2 separate regions of the Homo sapiens genome follow, and region 1 is linked to region 2. Evidence: fine-mapped expression QTL. Tissue or cell type: lung. Region 2 holds a variant in brackets; the other region holds the start of a gene. Each region is shown on its reference strand, or each on the opposite one.

Region 1 (2,919 bases), not on the chromosome of region 2:
CCCTGGCTTAGTGCAATTAGCAACTCCTGTCTTGCCCCCAGCCCCTTCCCCTACCAGGCCAGCTTCTCATTACACATTCTTACAGGAGAGGCCTACGGGGTAGGAGGCCTCAGTTGCAGGCAGGAGGGACGGTGGAGGCCCTGGAATTTGACCTGGGAGGGACTATCTACTTCTCCAGCCCAGGAGGCTGAATGCTCAGTCTACAGCAGCTTCTGGCTGGACTTCACAGGATGAATCTCCAAGGTTTCTTATCTGTCTACTCCTTCCTCCACTCATTTTCCATTTGTGGTAAAGTTATTTCTTTCTCACCCCTTACCTTTCCCCATTGGCCTTTTGACAACAGCTGGGCCATTTTTCACTCTGTCTTCCTAACTCCAGTGTATTTACTGAAAGATAAATGTGCTGTTTTATATCCCTCGTACCACACACAGAGTCATTTACTTAGATTTCACAGCACAAGGATACATATATGAGAGCTGCAGTGTCATCATCAAAATAGGTCTCACTTTGGGAACTCATGGTATATCTGTCTCAGGCCACACCTCCATTCTTCACAGTCACTTCTCAGACACCACATCTTGGAATAGAGTGTCAGAGCAATAAACTAAACCCATTTCCATTGGGACAGCCCATTTGGAGAACATTCCTGAACCAAGGGTCCTTGTCCAGCTATGCCCCCACTTTGATCCAGGTGATCCTCAGCTTTCCCCTTGGATCTTAAAACAACATTCCACTACCCCTCTGCCTCCATCTGGACTCCCTCCAGGCTCAGCTTGCTTTTAGCAGAATCATGTTCCCAGAAAACACTTTTCTCATGTCTCACCCTGCTGCTAGGAAGTCCACAGGGCACCTTGCTTCCACAGGGAAGCAAGAGAGATTTGGTCTCTTAAGTCAGGCTCCAAACCTCTTTCAAAGCTGACCTAGCACACTGTTGAAGAAAAGGATTTGGAGCCCAACAGATCTGAGTTTGAATCCTGGCTCAACCACTTACAAGTTGTGATTAGACATGTGATTTAACCTCCATGATCCTTTCTCATCTGTAAAATAAGGATGGTTAAACATAACTCACAGAGCTCTTGTAAGCTGAAACAAGATGAAGTATGCATGCTGCCTGGAACAGAGTAGAGTAGAGCTCCACAGGTGTGAATTCTGTCTTTTCAGTTTCACCAGCCTTGCTATGAGTGCTGGATTCATGGCTGATAGACTCCAGGCTTGAGGCCTGGGTACTAGTGACCCATAGTACATGTGGGGTAGACCCTGGATGTTTGTTTTCTTCCATTACTGGATGAAATGTTCTGTGTGGGACAAGGGGCCCATGGGGACCCAGCCAGCCAAAAATGAGCTGCTCTAGGGCCCTGCTTATGGTGCAGGACACTAGGACACCCACGCCTGGCCATACCAGGACTTTGTTCGTGGGTTACCTATAGTCTCGCTGAACTTTACAAAGAAAAGTTCTTTTGAGTTGTGCTTCTGCCCTTTGAACCTCTTATCTTCAGAGTCACAAACCTGGCCCACTAGGCTATAAAAGAAGCTCATTCCAGTGTATTCTCCCTGCAGCCTGCTCCTTGCCATCCACCACAAACCCTCACCGAACCAGTGGCCACCACCATGACAAGGGACCAGAATGGAACCTGGGAGATGGAGAGTAATGAAAACTTTGAGGGCTACATGAAGGCCCTGGGTAAGGAGGAGACTGGGGATGGGGAGGGTAGCTGTTGTTGGGAGTACTGTGGTCTGGCCCTCCAGACAGTGCTGCTATGGAGTTCAACAGACCTGTGGCAAATCCTCATGCCTCATGTACAGCTGTGCAATATTAGGCAGATCATAAGAATTCTCTGAGGCTCAGTTTTCTCATCTGGAAACTGGGAATAATGATAAATGAGATTATGTCTAGGATGCCTTAGCACAGTGCCTGGCCCACAGAAAACATACACTGAATGTGTATGTCAGGAGGATACACACACAACAGAGTAAAGCCAAACTTGAGAGGATAACACAGTCGCTCTTCTGCCTTGTGACCACCATCTCTCTGATAACCACTTGGACCTGATATTATCCACCAATGACCTCTGCATTGTTCTTTTATCAGTTTTGTAATGGGGAAGCAGAAAAGAAATAGCTAGCAAATCTCTCAGCCTAGGGAAAATCAAGCTCATGGAAGCCTAGAGAGGCTGTTGTCAGATAGCACAAACAACCCACTGCTTATATGACTTCTGAACTGGGTTCCAGGCCAAGGGCTACCAATTGGTGCATGTCCTGAGTTCACCACAGAGTGGGTTCCCTGTGGAACTGGCAGAAAACACATAGCCCTGCCCAGCCTACAGGTTCTGCCTGGGACTAGAGTGAGTGGGTCCCCAGAGGGGAGCTCACAGTTACTGGGTGGCTCCTGTGCTCCAGGTGCTGAGCAAGGGGCTTTGGCTGCCTGACCTTATTCCATCCCTCAGCAGCCTCTTTATCACCTCTTCTAGCTTTAAAGTTCTCCACATATGGGGTAACTTCGCTGGAACTTCCTCCACATGCAGAATGAGAGAAACGGCAGTGGGTGGAGTTAGAGGCCCAATAATAACTTGGATATGATGGTGGGAGGTCTCTCCAAGAGTGGAAATCATGAGTTTTTTGGTGTGATAAACTTCTAGCTTGAAAATGTCCACCATGTCAATGAAAAAGGAGAGCTGTGATATGTTCCATATTTGTGGAACTAAGCACTTTCTTCATGTTCTTTTTTTTTTTTTTTTTTTTTTTTATTTTGGGGACAGAGTCTCGCTCTGTCGCCCAGGCTGGAGTGCAGTGGCGCGATCTCAGCTCACTGCAAGCCCACCTCCCGGGTTCATGCCATTCTCCTGCCTCAGCCTCCAGAGTAGCTGGGACTACAGGCACCCGCCACCACGCCTGGCTAATTTTTTGTATTTTTAATAGAGA
Region 2 (2,919 bases):
AAAACAGGAATATCCAGGTAGTTGCTTGAGGAATGGCTTTTCAGAGCTTGAGTTTCCCTCAGAGGTTAGGTAACTTGTCCTTTAATTCACTGAGCTTAACCAAGTGCTGGCTATGGACAGAAACATAATAAATGCAGTGCAAGAACATGGAGTAGATCATATAGTTTGCCTCTGCCCGCATGTGTTCTAAATTCCCTTTCTTGCAACAGGTGTCAGGAGGCTGGCTTATCAAGTGGGTGTTCTAGAAGTCTAAAGGAGGAGGGAAGGGGTGGTATGTGATTTGGGCATGTAATTAAGGGACTATATATTAATAGAATCAATAGTTCAGTCTAGACCTAATCTAGTAAATCAATGGGTCACTCAGCTGAGGATGAAGACCAGTAACATGGTCCACAGCCGAGCATGGGGTCTGGGATATGAAGAGGAAGTGGCTGAGACAGGTACTGGTTCTCACCTGTTTGTTGTGATGGAGTAGGTGCAAGAACTATGCTTAAAAAAAAAATAATCCTCAAAAGTTTTAACTAATTCAGTAATCCAAATGTATTAAGATTATTTTGGCTTCAAGTAATGAAAGTGTGGTGGCACATGCCTGTTGTCCTAGCTACTTGGGAGACCGAAGCAGAAGAATCACTTGAACCTGGGAGGCAGAGGTTACAGTGAGCCAAGATTGCACCACTGGGCAACAGGAGTGAGACTCCGTCTCAAAACAAAACAAAAAAAAACAAAAACAAAAAAACCCCCTAATTCTAAGTGGCTAATACAATAAGGAAATGTATTATTTCATATTACAAGAAATTCAGAAGTAAGGGGTCTCCAGTGTTGGTTATTCAGTAGAGAGATGGTAGTATCAAGAATGAGGGTCTTTTTTTCTTTCACATCTGCCACTGTTGTCTTTATTCTCAGCCTACGATTCTCTCTTGGTTGCAAAATGGCTGCTGCAGTTGTACATAACACAGCCAGACAAGACAATGTCCAGAGAAAAAGAAGAGACCAGCTTTTCTTATGTGTCTTTTGTTGATTTTTTTTTTTGAAAAGATATGCTTTCCCACAGTTCTCCAGCTCACACCTCATTGGCTGGAATTACAACCATACCACCATGCAAACCAATGTCTGTTCAAGGGGAATGGGTTCATAACCCACTCCTGGGGCTGGAGCTAGCAGGGAGCATAGGCACCAACAGTATTTTTCTTCCCCAGGCTGCCTCTACCTTGAACTTCTGACTCAAAACCTTTGCCAAAAAAATATCCTTTTTCCTCCAAGCTCCTGCTCCACAGGAGAAGGACTGAATTTTGAAAGAATTAATGAATTTTTGTTTGTAGACTCCTTTATGTACTGGAAACATAGTTAATGGGCCTACCTCCATGGATTGGGTGTAAGTTAT[A/G]GAGCCTGGAGAGCAGTCCAGGGATGTTGGAGATTAGTTGCACGATGCATAAGAGTGATTATGTTTAATCACTCTATTTTCTCCCGCCTCTTATAAAAAGCCGCCTAGGTGTGGTTTGCCAATAGTATCAATCTGTTTCAGCTTCTAGGCCAGTAGTATTTGCAGTTATGTGGCCCTGGAGTGACATTTTCTGTCACCATTAACCAAAGGAGCCACATGAGCCTAGTATAACAGAATATTCTAATACAGAAATGAAAGGTCTTGCAGCCTTGCAGGCTGCAAAAGAAGGACCCACTCTCAGCCTATTATCTTTTGCCTGGCAGTGTGATTTCCTTAGACAAAGCTCCAAGTTTGGCTTTATATCCACAGGGAAAGAAACTGGTCAAACTAGTTTATTTTTAATCCTTTGTTTTCTCTCCACCAGTTTTTCACTTTGAAAACCTTTTTAGACCACCAAACAGATAAAGTTATGTCAAAGAAGAAAATCAATCAAGCTGAATGTTTCATATATGTTCAATTCAATTCCAAATACACTTTTCGAGAATCTACAATGAGTACAGTATAGAAACAGATATTGTGGAGAATACATAACTTCATAAACATGACATTGTACACACACATTTTCTGAGAACATGTTTTGGCTGAGTACTTGGATAAGTTTGGGGATGAATAAGAGATTTTCCTGTTTTCAAAGTATACATGTTCGGGGTGAGAGAAGGCAAAACAGACACGTAAATAATCCACAGAATTTCATTATGATATATCAGGTTAGTGCCAGTTGCTGTGGCATCAAAGAAATAACCAAGCCAAGGCTAGAAAGAAAGTGAGGGAAGCCATTGCCCTGGAAAAAATTTTTGGGTGAGTATAGAGGAAACTCTTTGCCCTAGAAGTGATATTTAGGTGAGTATTGAAGGGAAATAAGGGTTTTACAGATGACCTTGAGTCTCAGTTTTCAAAAGTAGAAATAAGACATTTACACCAAAAGCTATAAGAAAAGATAGAATGTGCAAAGTTCTCTAAGAGGGCATCATGGAATGTTTCGAGGACGATCTTTTGTTCTGGGCTTTAACTATTGAGTGGGGTATTGATGTTAGAAATGGGCCAACAGTATTCCATGCAGAGTGTACACTGTAAATGTGACAGGAATAAGACAAACTAAAATAATTTATTTTTTCAATTTTTTTTCCCTTACCCTATGTCCTAGCCTGGAAGAATTTTTTTTGTTTATTGAGTTAGCTCCAGGGCTCTTACCGGAAAGTTCTAAGAAGTCAGGGAGGCTGAAATGATACAGATATGAAGAGCTTAGGAAGGGAGACAAAAGAACCTGAAGGTGGGCTTGAAGAATATCTTGGAGTGGGAGCTTAGAGTTGGGGAGAAGAGAGACTTTAGGTGAGCCTAGGCATATCGGGGGAAAGGAAGGAAAGAAATGGGAGAAGAGAGGTTTTAGGAAGTTTTTCTATGTTCTCGCTTTGGGTATGTTTATGAAAGACTGCAGTAAAGATTAAATTATTTGTATGTCTATTTGGGTCAGGGTTGAT

The links.
Region 1: it holds the start of RBP2, and the variant in region 2 is fine-mapped to the expression of RBP2 in lung (TOPMed, PIP above 0.99).

Annotation. Positions count from the first base shown.
Region 1 is chr3:139,475,149-139,478,067 of GRCh38, reverse strand. It overlaps RBP2 (retinol binding protein 2), which reads left to right and starts at 1,552. Exons shown (of 4, transcript NM_004164.3): 1 at 1,552-1,681. The coding sequence starts at 1,609. All of the region lies in intron 3 of COPB2-DT (COPB2 divergent transcript), which reads right to left.
Region 2 is chr9:106,732,812-106,735,730 of GRCh38, reverse strand. No RefSeq gene overlaps it. Among named protein-coding and RNA genes, the nearest start is that of LINC01505, 120 kb to the right of the region's middle. The variant A/G (reference allele first, on the strand shown) is at 1,382.